Linked DNA regions of Homo sapiens: region 1 is linked to region 2. The links come from fine-mapping of genetic effects on gene expression. Tissue or cell type: prefrontal cortex. Region 2 holds a variant in brackets; the other region holds the start of a gene. All regions are shown on one strand. Distances are from middle to middle.

What was found. PIP is the estimated chance that this variant, and not a neighbour inherited with it, causes the effect. A credible set is the group of variants that fine-mapping cannot tell apart.
Region 1: ALDH1A3 starts here. The variant in region 2 is the best candidate, but not a certain one, in a credible set for the expression of ALDH1A3 in prefrontal cortex (CommonMind, PIP 0.86).

Annotation. Positions count from the first base shown.
Region 1 is chr15:100,873,653-100,883,678 of GRCh38, forward strand. It overlaps ALDH1A3 (aldehyde dehydrogenase 1 family member A3), which reads left to right and starts at 6,179. Exons shown (of 13, transcript NM_000693.4): 1 at 6,179-6,354. The coding sequence starts at 6,256. LOC124903575 (collagen alpha-1(I) chain-like) reads right to left here and starts at 6,151. Exons shown (of 1, transcript XM_047433433.1): 1 at 5,294-6,151. The coding sequence starts at 6,151. The coding sequence ends at 5,369. It overlaps GCAWKR (gastric cancer associated WDR5 and KAT2A binding lncRNA), which reads left to right. Exons shown (of 4, transcript NR_160703.1): 4 at 171-3,226. RefSeq lists a silencer at 6,100-6,219 and an enhancer at 6,711-7,225.
Region 2 is chr15:100,776,832-100,786,857 of GRCh38, forward strand. All of the region lies in intron 2 of LOC105371024 (a long non-coding RNA gene), which reads left to right. LOC440313 (protein enabled homolog) reads right to left here and starts at 7,654. Exons shown (of 1, transcript XR_001751715.2): 1 at 7,130-7,654. RefSeq lists an enhancer at 5,239-5,868. The variant A/T (reference allele first, on the strand shown) is at 5,506.

The DNA of each region.
Region 1 (10,026 bases), 97 kb after region 2:
TAATCTATTCCCCTGGGGGTGGAGTGTTTTAGAATCACCATAATGCCATATGAAACTAGATGAAAATATACATAAATAGGTTTCCTCTCTGCTACATACATAACAGGCTTCCTGTCTGCCTAAACATGTTATAAGACATGATGTGCTTTATAGACGCTTTCTGATTACAGGGGAACCTCAAGAGTGCTGCCTGAGTAACTCTCATTACACAAAGACACAACTGCAAGAGGATCCCCAGGCATTCCCATGAGAACACAGATTCTGACAACCCCTCCATCCCCCACCTTGGTCTCCACCCCAGGACTCACAGCATGGCAAAAATCCAAGGGAAGATTCTTGGGTAACTAATGCTCCTTTACAGGGGGTCCCGGATGAAGGGCAGGGGGAAAGTCTTGTCACTGTGGGGCTAGGATAGATGAACCCAAGAGTGATTTGCCAAACGTGCACATACTCAAATCATTTTTCAAACATTTTGGGTTTGGCAAAATGCATGTTGCTAAGCCCCCTTTCCCGACAGTGGTATACCCATGTGAATTTCAAGGGAAATTCAATGTGTGTGTTTCTGATTCTCTTAGGCTTATCTCAGGACAATTATTTAGCAAGAACCACTTTGTGTCCAAGAATCTTCCTGAACCCTTTCTTTTGTAAGACCCCTTAAACAATTTTCCTTTTAACCAGGAAGTATGTTTTGTCTGGAGTAAATTGAACTGAAACCCCAAGAAGTGTGGTTCAAAATTCAGAATTCTTGAATTTTGAAGGAGATTGGAAAGTCTGCAAACAACTTCTCACATCACTGAGACTTGCCGGTGGTGGTATTGAGGGGTGTGAAGTATTATGAGCAAAATTCACTGATTATATGGAGTGACATTTTGTTTACTTTAAAACAAAGTCTGACTTCTTGCTGCCTGATTTGAGTGCTGGCCTGACCAAGTATCTTCCAGGTCTGGGTGACCCAGGGACTTTTTCAGTCACTCAATCTTTCTGAGTGTTGGTGCCTTCCTCAGTAGATGTGAGGACACAACTAACACCTATGAGCACCAGAGGATGGCAGCTCCACGGGGCTTTTGTACCAAAGAGATTCTCTTCCCTAGTAGGACCTCATCATCCAATGAATCAGTGAGCTTACTCCATTTATTCCATCCCAGAGCTAGTTTTTGTCTTTGTTTTTTAACATACTATAAACCTGAGCACAGCGCATCAAGGTTATTTGATTAAGGTCAAAATAACAGAGATGGTGATAAGAGTTTTATGTCTGTGCTGCTCCGTTTATACAAAAATGAGATCATTATTCCACTTGAGTTAAAATTTTGCTCTTCTTGTCATAGCGATGGCCAACAGCCAGCTATGCTGCTTAGGATTAAGTTGGCCACATATAACAGAAAACCCAAATGGTGGGCTTTAATAATATAGGGATTTTCCTTTTTCTCACATGAAAAAAAAATCCAAGAAAAAATATCCAGGGATGAAGGGCTGGTTCCAGGGCCATCAGGGACCCACGTTCTTCCTAAGTGTCTCTTCCAACTTCCTTACCATGGAACTTGCATTTCAGAATTGCATTATGGTTACATGATGGCTGCTGGAGACCCAGCTCTCATGTCTGTGTTCCAGGCAGCAGAAAGGAAGAAGAGCCTTTCAGCTGACTCAGTCCCATGTAAAGAGTTTCTTTGGTCCTGAACTCCTGGCCTCAAGTGATCCTCCCACTTCGACCTCCCAAAGTGCTGGGATTACAGGCATAAGCCACCATGCCTAAGAGCTTCTTTGGAAGCCCAAACCAAAAACTTCAGCTTATACTTCTGCAAGAGAGGCTGGGAAATATGTTTATCAAAGCCCACTACCACCCTCGATAACATGGGATTCCACTGGCAAGAAAGGAGAGAACTATTGGGTACTCAACCAACTCTCTCGACCTTACCCTCCATGTTCTCTCCTGGCTGGGCCACAACTCTCATCCACTGGAAGACAGACCAAGGGGAAATCTCTGGCAGCTGTGAACTGGCAGGCTGTGTGTGTGTGCATGTGTGTGTGTGCATGTGTGCATGCATGTGTATGTGTGTATGTGTGTGTGCATGTGTGTGTGGCTTCACTGGGGCCTGACCCACAAATACCATGATGTCTCTTTGCTTTTATGTAATGAGTTCTCCGTTGGCTTCTGCCTGGTCCAAGACTGATTTGCCTCAGCCTAACATTGTGTAGTGAAGGCCTTTCCCAGGGCCAGAAAGGACTGGCAGGGCTGGAGAGAAAGCAGCTGGTGGAGCTGTGTGGTGGGCTGGCAGCTCCTTTCTCTTCACCTTGTTTGGGTGTTATCAGCTCCTCTTTCTCCAACCTGGGGTGCTCCTGCCTCGATATCATCAATCACTGATGGAAACTCGCAGGGAAAAGATTTGTTTGTGTGTTCCTTGAGGACAGAACAATGTTGTAGTATTTGATGGGTCTTAATATACGGTGAGCTTCAAAGGTAAGTAGTTGCCTATTCTAGTCAGGTTGAGGCGATACCGAATGACTCACATGAAACATGGAATTGACTTCATTGATACCAGCAAGGAGGTGCTCACAGTGAAGTCAGCCCTCCCTCACCACAGGGGCACATGCCACCCCCATTTTGTAGCCAAAAAACCTGAAGTTAGGTCGCCTCCCTGAGTCACCCAAGCACTGGCCTGAGTGCTGCACAGTGGGGTGACCGGGCTTCCCTACATCAAAGAACTACCCTCAGCCCAGGGGCCTGGCTGTCTAGGAAGGGTTCAGAAGGCACACCCAAGACTCAGGCCCCTGCCTCAACTCCACAACACTGAGGGAGGTGAGTAGACTGGGTGGGAGGGGCAGCTCTGCAGCTGGCCAGAGGCTGCGGGGACACAAGGGGTACTCAGCAGACCTGGGCGTCTCTCCACAAGGCTCAGGTACCAGATCTGAAATAACATGAAACACAGTAGGGGGTTCATCAACGTCATCATCATTATTCACTACGTTTGCTTCAGACCTCAACATCACCCACAGATGATTATGGGTTTAGAAATGGAATGAGGTTGAACTTAGGGGGTGACCACCTGACTTCTGTTTTATCTTTGTCTTTTATTCATGCTTCTTTTTACTGAGTGGTCATCCGCAAACAAGCCTGCAACATGACATGTCTTGGACTCAGCTCATTTGATGCACCAACAAGACAAACAGCAGACAACGGCAGCACCACAGAGCTGGAAACAAAATGAATAAATACTTTTTCACAATGAAATGAGCAGAGGGACTGTTGACTTGGGGGGCTCCCGCAAGCCAGAGACAAGTGGGGGGAACTTGCTGACTTCCAAGAAGAAAAGCCAGCAAAGAGGAACCAGTCTCCAGGAAGAATATGAAAATGAAGAGCTGGTATGTAGGTAGCACTTCTTGAGAGCCTTATCTTGCTTAAGCCTCCCCAAACACTGTAAAGTAAGTGGGAAGGAGATTATGGAAAAGAACACTGAAGTTCAGAGAGATCAATATCCCATCCAAGGGTGCATAGCTGGGACTCAGTTCAGGGATGTGAGCAGAAGGGGCTGGGCCTCTGCCATCTCCGATGCTCAGGCACCTCATCACTGAACCAAACACCCAGCAACCCACTGTGAGCAAAAATAAATCTTCCTCCTTCCCGGCCCCTGTGGTCCCTGCCTCTGAGGCCACAGCTAGGAGATATGGTTCCTAGGAAAGGCACAACGAAAAGGGATACTCCCGCCATTTTTGACCTTCAAAGCCCTTCGTGTCTTCACTATGCCCTATGCAGCCCCAGTGACATGGGACCACCCTGGGTCATAGGTGCTCACCTGCTTGAAAGAATAGGTCAGAGGAATGTCAGAGAAGCCCCTCCTCCCTGCACTGCACCACCCACTCTCACACAGTCTGGCCTTAGTTTCTCGACCGATGGTGATGTCTGGGGCAAGTGTCTGCACGCCTCTGTTTACTCACCCGTAAAATGGGGAGAAGCGCATTTGCCTCCACCCCTCCTGCCGATGGGAGCAGAGGTAGAGCCTGCTTGTCTGGACAAGCCCAGAGCTAGGCCCATCCTCCTGACCTGCTCTCTGGGAGCCACCTACTGTGACAAAGTCTATGGCTGAGTGCTCCAGTCTGATCTCAGGCTCCCAGGATCACGTGGGTATCAAACGGAGGAGCTGCAGGTGAGCCAGTCGGCATCTTTGCAACTGGCTCCTGAGACCAGACGCCTCGGGTCACAAGGATGTCTGAGTGTGAGGTGAGGTGGCTTTCATTCCTGACTTCATAGCCAACAAAGTGGTGACTGTCTATCTTTGACCAAACAGGCTCGACTATCTTCCCTAAAGGAGCAGAGTTCTAAGCTCAACCCCATTTGCCTCCCCCATCAATCCAGCAATTATTTAATTAACACAGTTTCCTCTATAAATTTTATTTCAGATTTTTTTTTAAAATCCTGGCAGTGACATAATTTCAACCATCAAGGACCCCCGATAAAGTCTCAGGATGGGAGTTCAGTTTGTAAAGCATCTCTAGTTGCAGCTTCCTGGGGCCTGCTGCACACACTGGCCTTGGGCCCCTGGCCTCCATCCATGCAGGAGGGGTTTGTCACTACTCCCTGACGGTCCTCTTGGGCTCAGGCACCCAAACGCTAGGGCTCAGCACCCAGCCGGGGGCCGTGGCATAGCACATCTGCCCAGATGTTTTCAGGAGATCTGAGTGGGAGCCATGGGGCCAGCCAAGAGGGCAGGGAGCCCCGGATTTGCAGAAGCAGCTGAGGAAAGAGCTGGCATTGCTCAGACTCGCCAGTGTTAGCCAGCCGATATCGGTCAAGGCTGCCCCGCTCGAGGGTCCATTATCCCCTTTCCCCGGCCTCAGCTGTGCACTCCAGGCCATAACAGCACAAGACCTTTCCACAACCCCAGGGTAAGGGTCAGATGTGGGGTTTCCAAAAGCTTCAAAACTTACCCCTCTATCCAGCTCTATCCAGAAGGACACCAGGGGACAGAGAGATGGACACGGAGGCCTCAAAACAGGAAAATAAGGAGACCCCTCCCCATTGTTGATTACTTGGGGTTACCTACAGAAAGAGATGAACTGAAGGGGCTGAGCCTATCTGAGGATTAAAGCACAGCTTTTGTCAGGAGTCCGTGCCTCCGGTCTTTGTTCCAGCGACCTGAGGAATGGCATGCATCAGAAGCCGCTTCCGTGTCTCAGATGGGGCCTGGGTCAAGTCCTGGGAGTTGATGGAGCGTTTCCCAAATCGCAAAAGGAGAGGAGCTAGACTTACCTCCCCCTCCTGGGAAGTAATGCGCGACAAGAATTTAAACTCTTAAAACGATTAGCAGCAAAGGTCTCATGTGCTTTTTTTTAATTATCATTTTTTAATCGAGGTATAATTTATGCATTTAAAAAATCAGATCAATTGCCCCCCGGGCTCTGGGATGGAAGGCGGTGTGCGCCTGCGAAGGTCAGAGGCCCAGCGGCGCCAGGGCTCCTCGGCGGAGAGCCGCCCGGGTCCGGCGCTTTGCTTTCGCCTTCTGCCCCACCGCGGGCGAAGCCCCAGGGCCCCGGGGAGACTCCAGGCCGGCTGGGCCGGGGTGCGCCCGCCGGCTGTCCGCGCTCGGGCAGGGTGGGGCGCAGCGGGCGTCTGTCCTGCTAGCGGGGATCGGGCGGCTGGACCCAAGAGCAGGGCACGTGCGCAGCGACGCGGGGCGGCCCCGCCAGGAGCCCCGACCCGGGCGCGGCGCAGGGCCCGGCGGAGAGCGCGCATTCCCGAGCGCCGCGAGCCGGCCGAAGTCGGGCGAGCGCGCCGTGCGGCGGCTGGGAGTGGGCTGCATGTGCCGCGCGGGGAGCCCGCCCGACTTCGGGGAGGCAGCGGGGCGCCGTGGCCCCGCGGCTCAGCTCCCTGCCGGGTCGGGTGTCCCAGCCCTGCGACTTCCGGGGCCCGGCGGCTCCTCGGGGAGCTCGTCCACAGGCAGCCTCCGGGGCGAGAGAGCGCGCGGCGCGGGCGCCGGGACGGTCCGCGGCACGCGGGTGGAGCCGCCGGCGCTCGGGCTCCCGCAGGGGCGGCGGGCGGGGCGGGGTGAGGCGGGCCGGCCGCCCTCCCCTCTCCTCCCTCCCGCAGCCCGCCCTCCCTTCCTCCGGTCCCGCAGCCAATTAGGCGGCCCCCTCGGGCGGGAGGCGTGGGGCGCTGCATAAAGCGGCGGGGAGCTGCCACCCCGGGAGCGGGCTGCGCAGTGTCCGGGCCGAGCCGGTGCGCCGCAGACTAGGGCGCCTCGGGCCAGGGAGCGCGGAGGAGCCATGGCCACCGCTAACGGGGCCGTGGAAAACGGGCAGCCGGACAGGAAGCCGCCGGCCCTGCCGCGCCCCATCCGCAACCTGGAGGTCAAGTTCACCAAGGTGAGGCGGGCGCCCCTCCCACCCGACGGCCGCGGGCCCCTGCGCTGGGCAGCCAGACTCGGGGCGGCGGGGGCGAGGGAGCAGCGGGCCGGGGGTCCGCCGGGCGCCGCCGAGACCCGAGCCTCCCTGCCCGGGCGCGGCTCTCCAGAAACCGCACCTTTCGCGGGACGTCTCGGGCGGGATCGCAGGCGGCGGGGCTCGGCGCTGTGAGCCTCGAAGCCGGGAAACCGAGGCCGTCCAGCGCCCGCGCGGGGCCGGGCCGCCCGCATCCCTGCGAGGCCCCGACGTGTCCCTGCGCTGCCCGCTTTGATCGCGAGTGGAGGTGCGCGCCGCGTTGACTCGGAGCGCGCTGGTTTTGGGGAGCTCCCTCCCCAAAAACCCCTGCGATGATTTCCAGGGTGGACGAGTCTGGCTTTGAGAGGGTCGGAGGGTCCGAGAGCGCCAAGAGAGAGTCCGGGAGGCAGATGGCGGAGCTGCAGTTGGAAGACTGGGGAAGCGGGTCCTCCGAGCAAAGCGCAGCGGGCGCCTTCCGTGCTTAGTTTATACCCGGCTCAGCAGCAGAACGAGGAGGAGTAGGAAGGTGCTCGCTTACTGACGAAACCTCCCCGGAGCCCAGAGGTCCCGGTGTTTACACACAAGGCGCGCGCTCCGGAAGGTCGCAGACCTGGGCCTTTGGGAAGCGGTGGGTCGCGAGGCCGCAGAAGCGCACGGTTCTCTGCCTCCTCGCTCTGTGGGCTGGGAGGCTACAGCGTTGGCAGAACGGCGAGATTACCTGCCCGGGGCAGAAAGGAATAAAAGAAGATGGTGAGGCCTCCGAGGCCTCTGAGCTGGGGCTGAGGAGGGCCGAGAGACCCGGGTCCGGGAGCGCGACCCGATGGAGGACACCCCCAGGCTGTCTGGCGTGCGCGTCTGTCGTGGGCCGGTGCTGGGGCACTTTAGAGGCACAGGCCAGGCCGAGAGCCATTGCCTTAACTTTCCCCACCTTTGGCTTCTCTTGATTTTTGCTTTTACCCATAGCCCCCAACTCCAGCTGACACCGCACTTAGAGAATTTCCTCATCCGTTTTACTTTAAGAAGTAGCAATTATCTTTCTCAAAGAATTTTAATCAAGCGGAGAAAGTTGCAGGGCACTATGTGTGGCCTTCAGATTTGGGTCTCTTGGCACTTAATTCCCAATGTCGGCTGAGCCTCTGATCACAAGACATTTAAATTAACTGTTTTCAGAAGGCTCTGTAATCAACAAAGACACGTCGCTGTAAACTAAACGCTGGAAATTATTCTTAATGTAGTTTTATTTGTAATATCAGCTTCAGAGTGAAAATTCCAACACGAATTCTGGGAAGAGTGAAAATGGTACCCGAATTTTGTAAGACCCTAACCCCAGGTGCTTGGCTGCTGCTACTGATGGTTAAGTGGGGAGGTTGTTTGTTTTCTTTTGGTTGTACAGGATTTCAAAATACTGTATATAGAAACCAGACAGTAAATGTATTATGGTCCTTTTACTTTTTATGTTTTTGAGTCCTATCAGCAATCTGACCACATACAAAAAGTTTACCTCTTTCTCTATGATTTTTAGGACACTTTTAAAGTGTAGATGTAGCCCTTATGGAGACCTTAGACAATTCACAGAGCAATGGTTGCCTGTTGTCTTGGTGGGTGCGCAACCTTTGCCAGTTAAAGGGAACCAGTGCAGGAATGAGGCTGAGGGAAGCTGGTGGATCGGCCTGGAGTGCTGGGATCTTGAGTGGTCTCCCAGGCGATAAAGGCCCCAACTGCCTGACACCGGCTGCTGGCTCCTCACCCGTTGGGGGACTGTGCTGCTGCCTGCTCTGTCCTGGCTCCTGGCCCATCTCTGCAGAGACCTCCCCATAGCAGTTGTGGACCCAGGCAGCTTGTGTGGCTGAGGGTGGCCAACCAGTGCCCTGGCACAGTCCTCAGGGAGACTGGACTGGAGAGGCGGCCGAGAGTGAGGCCACCAAGAGTGCCTGCCGAGGGAAGGAGCGGGATAAACTGAAGTGCAGGACTGAGGCCCAGAGTGGGCGAGTGGCCCGGCAGGTGGGTGGCCTGGCAGGAGAGCAGACGGTGGAGCATGGGAGCCAGCAGTGGTCTGCTATTTTCCAAAATTGACTCATGGTGCTTCTCGATAATGGGGCACACACCAGAGTTGGTCCATCTGAGCCCTAGCCCCGGCAGTGCCATTTCCCAGGGTGGTCCAACTTTCAGGATGACTTTGTCAAAGCCCCTTCATTTGTCCTCACATGTTAACATTTCATTCTCTAGGGTCATGCTGTGTGATTCTGGAGAGCTGAGAGCCCCTCCAGGGTCCCCACACAGATCTCAGAGGATAGAAGTCCCTTCTAATTTAGAGGGCCTCTTTCTTTCCTTATAAAATTTCTTCCAGTAGCAGGGATTCTCTTCAAAGTTTTCTGATTTTTAAAACACCGGTTTTTATTATCTCTCTTATGAAAAATAAAATTCCCCCAAATCTCCTTTTCTGAAAACATATTCTTTTTGAGTTTAGCTGAGTGGCCTGTTGTCAGATGGAAGTTACGGGAAATCGGCATCAATAGGATTCACTTGTATGACTGTCATCTTCACCTCTGCCTGAGACACCTTACAGCTCCGTCCTGCTTCCATGTCATTCTGTTCCTTTTGTAAAATGTGAACCAGGTCTACAGCTCAATGTAGCTTAATGCTATACCTCTATAAGGTTTGTTGTATGCTAATCCACAAATCAAAGACAACAATTCCTTCTAGACCCTTTACCCTGATTTGGAGTTCAAAACAATACAGCCAGCATAATCAGTAGACCATATTTATATACCCTTTCCTTATATTTGTGCTTTTGTTTTGTTTTAATGGAGAGAAAAATCAACAGTAGAAACCACTTACAAGATTACTTACTACTGTAGTGTGGTATAAAGTAAAAGATTTTACAAAATTAAAAACATAGTGATGGGAAAATATGGTTAGAGTCAAACAGTCTGATTTTTTTTTAAGGTTGCTGGTTACAGATCAATGTCATGAACAAACAGTAATTTTTTTTGGAGGAGCATGCTTGGAGATGAAGTATAGCAGTATAGCAGACATCCGATCATTGTAATCTGTTTTCAGCCCCCTTATTTATATTCTCTTCTGCCACCTTCTCATTTTCCCTCCCCCTTGGAGTTGATACCAGGAAGGACCTAGAATCAGCAATTTTCACTGACAGTCTCTATTATCTAACCCACGAAATTTCATCTTTCTACAAATGGGCCCCTCTTCCTGGCTGCACTTTCCTCCCCGCACTAACTTAACTCTTCTTCCTCAGTTATTAATTTCTCGCTGTTACCAAGTGATGACTTGCTGGATGGCAAAAGTGAACTCTTGGATTTAGTTTCAGCTGGAAGAATAAACCTGTAATTGTAGCCTGGCCTTTTCCTGGTGCGCTTCCCTGGGGGCCTGGCCTCACATTGGAGACGCTAAGCTTCCAGAAGCCAGACAGGCAAATCCCAATGGTGACCGATGCTCTCAGTTCTGGATTCCAAACTGGGGGGCAGCTGGTCTCTGCTCACCTGCCCAGCCAGAGTCTGCCTCCTGTGCTTGGTCCCCAACCGACTCAGACCAGGCTTCCTCACTATGAGCTTCAGAGGTTTTTGTGGGTTTTTTTTTTTTTTAACATTCTATCAACTT
Region 2 (10,026 bases):
CTATTTAATCCTCATAGAACCCTAAGAAATGGTACCATTTTAATCCCCATTTTATAAAGGAAGAAACTACAAACCGGAGAGGCTAGGTCATTTGCCCAAGGCCACACAGCAAAACAACAAGCTATCACTTTTTTAATTTCATAGATCCTACCACATGCAGTGGCTTATGCCTATAGTCCCAGCAACCTGGGAGGCTGAGACAGGAGGATCACTTGAGGCCAGGAGTTTGGGAGCAGCCTGGGCAACATAGCAAGACCACATTTCTACAATTTTTTTTTTAATGAGTCAGGCATGGTGGCATGCAACTGTAGTCCCAGCTAATCGGCAGGCTGAGACAGGAATATCATTTCAGCCCCGGACTTCGAGGTTGCAGTGAGCCACGATTGCACCCATGTACTCCAGCAAGAACAACAGAGTGATACCCCGACTCTATAAAAACAAAATGAGCTATCATTCTTTGTTTCACGGGTCCAAATACTGGATTCTGGGGTAATAAACATTCAGTCCTTCCTCTAAAATCGTAAGAACATAGCTCAGCCTTTTATGTCAAGGAAAATCATATCCCACTGTTATCTCCCTGGGAGCACGGTGATGAGATCAGTCCTATCTTGCCACAATTCCAAATATTGGATGCCAACCAACAAAACATAAGTCCATTATTTAACCCTATTAAAACCTCTCAGTCAGGCGCGGTGGCTCACACCTGTAATCCCAGCACTTTGGGAGGCCGAGGTGGACGGATCACAAGGTCAGGAGCTTGAGACCACCCTGGCCAACATGGTGAAACCCCGTCTCTACTAAAAATACAAAAAATTAGCTGGGAGTGGTGGCACGCATCTGTAATCCCTGCTACTCAGGAGGCTGAGGCAGGAGAGTCCCTTGAACCCGGGAGGCGGAGGTTGCAGTCAGCTGAGACTGTGCCACTGCACTCCAGCCTGGGTGACAGAGCGAGACTCCGTATCAAAAACAACAACAACAAAATCCCCTCAACTATGTGGGCTGATTGGGTGGGCAACTATCTGGGAATTTAAAAAGTCTGAATCCTGGAATTTGTTGAGAGTGCAACTTTTTTGCCTTTTAAAAGAACAATTTTATTGTGGTATAATTCACATAACATTCAATTTACCCATTGAAAGTGCACAATCCAGTGGCTTTTAGTCTATTCACGGAATTGTACATCCATCACCAAATTAGAGAACATTCCATCACTACAAAAACAAACCTCATAGCCATTAGCAGTCACTCCTCATTCCTCTCTGCCCCCAGCCTTAGGAAACTATGAATTGTTTTTTATTTCTATGGATTTGCCTATTCTGGGCATTTTACATAATTGGAATCATACAATATTGATCATTCTGTGTCTGGCTTCCTTCACTTGCCATCGTGCTTTCAAGGCCCATTCATGCTGCAGGATGTATTGGTACTTCGTTCCTTCTTACTGCCAAATAACACTGCATGATATGGATGGACCCTATTTCATTTCTTCATTCATCATCGGGTGGCGTCTAGGTTGCTTCCACTTTTCGCTGTTGTGAACAGTGCTGCTGTGAGCATTCACGAACAGGTTTCTGGGTGGACGTCTATTCTCATTTGTCTCGGGTATATCCCAGGAGTGGGATTGCTGGGCACATGGTAACTCCACGTTTAACCGACGGAGGAACTAGGATGCAGCTTCATATTCTCAAGACATTTCCTGCCAACTACTGCACTTACACCTGGGCAGTGCCCTTGACACCAGCCAGGAGAGGGCGGGGCATTACGTCACACAAAAATTGGTTGGCTTTCCCTGGCCACCTCCTTTAGATGGTCAGAAACATCTTTATTTACTAGCAAATTAGTGGGGATGACAGGCTCTAATTCAGGTCACTGTATTGCTGGAAAGTATTTTGAAGGGCTGGCATCGTTTTGCCTCCTTTTGAAGTAGTAAGCCTACACACACACACAGAGCACCTCTGGGAATTCAGACCCTTGGAATGAACTATGTGGCTTATTCTTGGTGAGAGGAGAGAGTCAGATGGATGTAAGTAGATTTCTTCCTTCATAAGCAAAGCCTACGTAGCATCGCGTCCACTTCCCAGGGGCCAGGCCGGTCGGCCTGAGTCAACCCAGGGTGCAGCCACCCGCGGTAAGTTCTGGTTGTGGGCACAGGGCTGCTTCAGAGCCAGGAAAGACCCAGAACAGGCTAGACAGGCCCTGCCTCCTCCCCACCCCCACCCCAGAGGTCCTGCAAACACGTGTGTCCTGTCCATCTGCAGGGAGAGGGGGCCGAGGCCCCTCGGAGGAAGTGGGCCGGGCCTGGCCAGGTGCTCGCCCTCTCCCGAGTCAGGGCTGCACTTAGATGACGGCAGACTTCCAGGTGGGAAGTGCAACATCCTGGCGTCTTAGGGGCCCGTCCAAAGATCCAGATGTTTGGCGCCAACAACCCCCAAACCCGGGTGATTGAATCTGACACTTTTTTATAGAGTGTAGGCACAGCTGGCCAGAGGAAGCTTGTCTGTATCCATTTCTTCTCTCCCAGCTCCAGTGCGCTCCCGAGTTCTGATTCCAGGCAACTTTTGGCAGCTCATTTTTTTATTCTTACGCTGGGAAAAACTCAAGAGTCCCCACCTCCCATTTCTATAAGAAGGGACGCTGGGGATCTGGCCTATTTGATGGAGAGGTGGGAAGGGGATGTGGATGAAATTAGTGCTGTAGGAGACGGGGGTCCTGCATTGGATGGGTCTCAGCGACAGAATCTTTGTGGCCACTCTTATTTCTAGGTTTCTAGGACCATAATCCAAGTTCCACAGAACCCCCAAGAGGCCCAGAGGCAATGCCTTAGGAGGCCTCAGAGAGGGAGAGAGACCAGGAGAACATGAATCTCCTTTTTTCCAAATCATTCTTCTCCCAGCACCCCAGCATCCCTGGGGTCCCCAGTCTGGCCCCATAGGCAAACCACCTGTCGCTCCTGGGACACACCTTGCACTCTCCACCTCTGCAGCTCTCCTCTTCTTCCTCGCTGCTGACCTGTGGATCTTCATCATCTTTCTCAGCTCCAGTGCTCCTTCCTTCCTGCAGCCTTCTGGGAGCACCCCAGTAGACTAATTGCCTTCTCTTCCCCAAGCCCATGGACTAGGATGCATTTCTGTGGCGCACTTCAGCTAGCAAGTCTTCCCACGGACAGGGATGGCCAATCACCTCTGCAGCTTCCCCAGCCCAGGGCCCTGGACGTGACAGCCACACTTGCTCAGCGGAAGTTCGTTGACATGAAGTGAAATGCAAGGGGAATCTGTTGGGGGGTGAAGAAAGAGCCAATCTGGAGCCACCCGATAGGGCAAATGCCTCGAGACGGACACCTGTAGTTTGGGGGCCCTTAGACCTGCCTCCCCTGACGTGTTTAAAAAATCATTACATTGCCAACTGTAAGAATTAGGAGATCGCACTTAGGAATCCAGGTATTCAGCTTTTGGCAATAAATAAGTAAATAAATGAATCCCAGCAAGAGAAACCAGAGATGATCAAGGCCCGCCCACGAGCCAAGGCCCCATCCTGACAACTCAGTTGAGCGTGTGAGTTTCTGGCCTGCACCCGGTGGGTACCGAGTTGGGCATGCCCTATGCCAGTAGGTGCTGAGGAGAAGGCAGTTGCCTTGGGAATGGGCAGAAGGACAGGAATCTTTCCCAAATTTTACTTCAGGCCTGACTAGGATTTTAAGTCCACACCCGAGAGCTGCCCTTTACCTTCCTACCATGAAGCGCCTTCTGAAGAGGGTGACAGGCCATCCCCTCTGCCTGGCGTGCCCACATTCAGGTTCTGCCTCAGCCGGCAGCAGACCTGCCCTCAGGAACTCTGTGTAGCATTTCTGGGATGTTCTCCTGCTTTCCAGAAAACCAGAGTGGGTTGCCTGCAGGAGTCCCCACAGGCATGCGTGGAAGTGGTGACCGTCCCCAACCATCCCCTCCACAGAAGAGAGGCTCATGCCTTCGGTTTCTATTTCCTGTCAATTTGTGTCCATACCAGTCTGTTTAAGGATAAACTTAATTTATGTTAGTTTAAAAACATAAATAATGCTTGGGCTGATGAATGCGCTCACTATCTTGACCATGGTGATGGTTTCCTGGGGGTCTACCTATGTCAAAGCTACCAAATTGTACACTTCAGATAGGCACGGCTTGTTCTATGTCAATTATACCTCAGTAAGGCTGTTTAAAAAATAAAGGCAAGAGCCACCGTTTGAATTTAGTGAAAAGGTGGATGTGGAAGTGTCCACACAGAACCATGAACCTCATTTAGCCAGTGATTCTGTGTGGATGGTGTGATTGGCGTTTGGGAGAGCAGGTCAGTAGTGACGGGCCAGGGCAGGGCCCAGAGTACAGGGACCAGGCGGGTCCAGGTGCCCCCAGGAAACCCCATCTTTCTCTCTTGGCACATCCCTCTCCCCCGGGCCCTTCCAGGGCTTCTTTCTCACCTTTGTTTTGTCCAGGGATCTTCCAGTCCCTGGTGGGTGTCAACAGCTCCCAGCTGAAGAAGCAACACCTGGGGAGATCCTGCATCCCAGAGGCCTCTCTCTGGAAGCAAAAGGCGTGGGGAGAAACACCCACACCCCTCCTTTCCTCCTCTGTGCAGCCCCTCTGTCCTCTGAGAGAGGACTGCTGGGAGTGGCCACTCACCACTGCAGCTGTTCCCAGGGGTTCTCAGGGATCTGTTTCTGTCTTTGCTGAAGCCCACAGTGCACACATCAGTAACAGCATCTACCAAATAACTTATCTAAAGAGATAGAGGAAAGCAACTCTCAAGCTAGTAACAAAAGGTCACCTCTGTAGGGCAATCTCTGTCTGCCCTGCCCCTGCCCATTCAGCCCCTCTGATGGGCCAGGCACTGCACCAGCCCAGGGGATTGCTGTGCTGGGAAGGCCTCTCCATTCTGGTCACAGTGGCAGCCTGGGATCCCTGCTCTCCATCTCCCTAATGAACTGTGACTCTCCTGGAAAGCATCTGTTTTCACGAAACGTAACCACGGAGGAGTGGGCGAATGGAGAGGGGAGGCCAGAGGAGCTCCCTGGGAAGGCGCAGGCAGTGCCCTCAAGGCAGGTTCACCCTTTCTGCAGCCAGGGCTGCAAGGAGGGACAGGCAGGACTCGGGCTGCAAGGAGGGACAGGCAGGACTCGGGCTGCAAGGAGGGACAGGCAGGACTCGGGCTGCAAGGAGGGACAGGCAGGACTCGGGCTGCAAGGAGGGACAGGCAGGACTCGGGCTGCAAGGCATACTGAGGCCTCCAAGGGCCAGAGGGAGCTGACCCGCTTGCTCACCCTGGCTGGGGGCCACACCCTGGCACATCCCACAGCATTCCATATCATGGGGGGGGTTACCCTGCTGTTCCCTGGAGCTGGTCCCCTCTTAGGCATGGTGTGCTATGAGCAGGGCCTGGGACCCTCCTCAGGGGTCCTGGCTTTGTGAGGGAGAAAAAAAAATGTGTCTTCTACCTTCTTATGTTCAGTGACTGAGGTCCTGCAAATTAAACTGACAA[A/T]AGGCAATTAACAAGAGAAAAGAACAGATTTAATTATATACATATGCGTGGGCATTCACAAAGAAATGTGACTCTCTGAGGTGGTTAGCATTTGGAGCCTGTGTAACATCTTAACAAAGAGCCATAAATTGTGGAGATGTGGCCAGCATGGTGGCTCATGTCTGTAATCCCAGCACTTTGGGAGGCCAAGGCGGGAGGATCACGAGGTCAGGAGATTGAGAGAAGCCTGACCAACATGGTGAAACCCCATCTCTACTAAAAATACAAAAATTATCTGGGCATGGTGGCACATGCCTGTAATCCCAGCTACTCAGGAGGCTGAGGCTGGAGAATCACTTGAACCCGGGAGGCGGAGGTTGCAGTGAGTCGAGATCGTGTCACTGCACTCCAGCCTGGGTGACAGAGCAAGACTCTGTTTCAAAAAAAATAAAAAAATTGTGGAGACATGACAAGACAAAGGAAAAATGTTTTGAGCTTCTAGGGATGGCAAATGTGGAAAGGGATACATACGGGGGAAATAATGGAAGATAAGGGTTGTTAAAGGTTATGACTATTCAGGTTGGTGCCATCTCCGGTGATGAGTTGTGGCTTCTTTCTGGTACAGGAGAGGGGAGGAGGAATCCTTCACAAAAATGAATTTCTGGGCCAGGCACCGTGGCTCATGCCTGTAATCCCAGCACTTTGGGAGGCCGAGGCAGGTGTTGAAGGAGGAAGTCAGGAGTTCAAGACCAGCCTGGCCAACACGGCGAAACCCCGTCTCTACTAAAAATACAAAAATTAGCCGAGTGCGGTGGTGCATGCTTGTCATCCCAGCTACTTGGGGATCTGAGGCATGAGGATCTCTTGAACCGAGGAGGCTGAAATTGCAGTGAGCCAAGATTGCTCCACTGCACTCCAGCCTGGGTGACAGAGTGAGACTCTGTCTCAAAAAAAAAAAAAGATAAATTTCTGCCCTCCCTTGAGGCAGATGGGAGCATGGGGAGTAGAGAGCTTTTTCTGCATCTGGCTGTTTCTCAGTTGCCTTCAGCTCAAAATAATCCTTATGTCAAAGCGGCATCCTTTGGGGTGGCATATTCTGATGCTTTCACACTCCTGCCTCCGTGCCTGTGATCTCCTCATCATTCTGCCTTTGCTCCAGAAAGCCGTGCATGATGGTGCTGGGAGTCTGGCCACAGAGATGAGATTCCCAGCTTTGCCTGTCATCAGGGGTGACATCTCAGCCAAGGCCAGCCCCCTTCCTAGGCCTCGGTTTCCTCTTCTGTAAAGCAGAGAGGAACACGGTGCCTACCTCCTGGCGGGCAGTTACGAGCACTCCACAACAAGATAAGGTGAAGTAACAGCCTGTGTGCACCAGGTTCTCCTTACATACTAGCTAGATGCATGACAGAAAGCTACATTACAGAAAGGGACAATGATGTTCACAGTGACTTCTGAGCCAGGTAGCACATCACTCCCAAACACTGCCGTGGATATTCTCTCACTGAATCCTTATAATTATGTTCTTTTATGGATGAGAACAGGAGAGCTTAGAGACATTTGCTGCCTGGCCCAGGTCCCATAGCCCACGCCATGGCTCAGACTCCCAATCCCACGCTGCCTCAGACCCGGGCTACCCTGCCCTGGCTCACTGAGATGGTGAGTCCTGCTGTTCCTTGGATGGTGCCTGCAAGCCCCAGGGAGGTGTGGACGGAGGGGAGTTTTGCAAAGGGGTGGTGCTGCCCAGATCGGGGCTCCATATGGGCAGAGGGAGTTCTGGAAGGTTAGAGATTCCCCAAAAGACAAGCTGAGGAAGGGAGACAGCAGCAAGGCCAGGAGGGAGGCCAAGGAGGCAAAAGACGACAGGATCAGAAAGAGGCAGGCAGGAGGCCAGGGCAAGCTGCAGCAGAGGGGCAGACTCCGTGAGGTCAGCGCTGCGGGTGCAGGGTGCAGAGCTCGATGAGACCCGGGATGGTCGCAGCAGAAAGCCTGCGCCCTGGAGAACTGGAGGAGGCCTGGCGCATCCCCACTGCTGGCAGCTCCTTAGAGGCACTGGCTCAGCAGGAAGAGGAGGCCAGCCAAACACCGGGGCAGGTGGGGTGGGCACACAGGGAGCAGCGGGGAGCCAGATGGGGAGAGGAAAAGAAGCTGTCCCCAAACATGGGCAGAGCATCCTCACATCTGGTCAGCTACACATGGACGAGGACCTGTGGCTCTCAGGTCTGATGATCCCCAGCTCTGGGGAGGGCTGGAGCACAGGGGGCTCTCCCACTGCTGGTGAGAAGAGAAGCTGACCGTCTGCAGCACCTGCCAAAGTGAAGAAACTCAGTTCCACCCCCAGGTACTTTTCTGGCAGGCACTGTGCACAGGTGCACCTGGAGACAGGTAAGAGGATGTTTATGGGGCAACCTTCCTAAGAGCCAAAGATCAGAAGCAACCCCGAGTCCATCAATAGCAGAAGAGAGAAAACAATGGAAGAGAGAAAACAATGGTTGTGTTCATGTAATGGGCCATGCACGGAACTGCAATAGGAAATGAGCGAAGACCAGGCAATGAAATAGAAGGATCCCCCAAACACACTGAGCAAAAGAAATCAGGCACTGACGAGGACATGCCCAGTGATCCCAGGGGCAGAAAGAGGCCCAACTCAACTCTGGTGCTTAAGAACTTGTAAGTAAGTGATAAACATCATTAAAACCAAGTACATGACTGTCACAAAAGTCAACGCAATGGTTTCCTCTTGGGACAGCTGAAGGATTCCCAATGAGACAGGCTCTTGGGGGCACTCCTGAGTCAAGGCAATTAGCCGTTTCCTATGGCATAGATGTGCTTTCAAATTCTACGTTACGTGGCAAATATCTGCTATATGAGTTTTCTGTGATGTGTGACCAATCACACTTACACAACAAAGAGGGGTGGGGAGTGGAGAAGCAGCCATCACCTCACCTTTCAGGACCTACAGAAGGAAGGGTTGAATGAAGCCAGCTTCCCTGATCCAGTGATGTAGACAGAGTGAGGAGGAAGGGAAGGGCCTGCCTGGGGCCAGCTGTGATGTTCAGCATGAGGTGCTACCTGGTGGACATGCCAAGGTGCCACCAACCATCAAGTGGGCCACAGGAAACAGCTGTAAGATCTGTAAGATGCAATTATGTCAGGGAAATGGTGACTTCAGAAGGTAGGCAGGCAGGTGGGTGGATCATATTTGCCTATGGATATTGGAAACCTCATTCCACGTGGATATGAGTGACTGTAGGAAGAGGCCCAGCGTCACAAGCCCCTCGGCCCCGCAGGAGAGCCCAGAGCACCTCAGCTGTAGCTGAGAGCTCCAGAGCTGTAGGTGCCTTGTGCACCAGGGCGGTGGGAAGGCTTGGAGGGAGGAGCACCCAAGGTGTCCCTGTTCCAGACCAGGCGGTGTGCAGAGGCCCTGGCAGGGGACGATGCTCACAAGCCCCTAAGAAGCTGGGCTCAGAGAGGTCAGTGAGTTGCCCCAGGTCCAGGGGCTGCTCACAGGCACTACTGACTTTCAGCTCAGGTTTTCTTGGCCCCAGGAAGTTGTTCTTCCCACTATGCCATGTCATGACTCATTCATGGAGTGAATTTCTTGAAATACTTTTAGTTTCAAAAACTAATTCGAAACACCTTTTGTTGTTGTTGCTGTTGTTTTACTTTGAGGGGGGCGGTTAATGGGCTTTTACATCAATTGAGATTTTGTCTGAAGCCCTAAGTGAAGATCAGTTCTGCATTTGGACTTACCTGCCCATTTGCAGATGGTCAGGCCCGTTTCAACCTGAGGAAATCCCTAGATCAATGTGATGTGAGAGTGTGTGTGAGAGTGTGTGAATGTGTGTGTGTGTCAATGTGTGTGTGTACGTGTGTGTGAGTGTGTGAATTTGTATGAGTGTGTCAATGTGAGTGTGTGTGAGTGTGTGTGAATGTGTATGAGTGTGTGTGTCAATGTGTGTGAGTGAGTGTGTATATGTGTGTATGTGTATGTGTGTGTGTATGTGTGAGTGTGTGAATGTGTGTCAATGTGAGTGTGCTTATGTGTGTGAATGTGTGTGAGTGTGTGTCGTGTGTGTGAGTGTGCGTGTGTATGTGTGTGTGAATGTGTGTGTGAGAGTGTGTGTGCGTGTCAATGTGTGTGAGTGTGTGGGTGTGGGTGTGTGAGTATGCAGGCGTGTGTGTGTGTGAGCATGCAGGTGTGTGTGAGAGTGTGAGCATACAGGTGTGTGCTTGCTGTCCTGAAGTTAGATTAGGCAGGGCCGTCTCATCAAGCCTCCAGCACAGCTGTTAGGGGCTGAATTGTGTTTCTCCCGAATTCATGCACTGAGGCCCTAAACCCATTCCTCAGAATGTGACTATTTGGAGACAGGGCCTTTAAAGAGGCAGTTAGGTTAAATTGGGGTCGTTAGGGTGGTCCCTAACATGATCTGACTCGTGTCCTTACAAGAAAAAGAGATTAGGACACAGACAGGCACAGAGGAAGGATCACATGTGGATATGGAGAGAGGGCGGCCGTCTGCAAGCCCAGGATGGTCTCAGAGA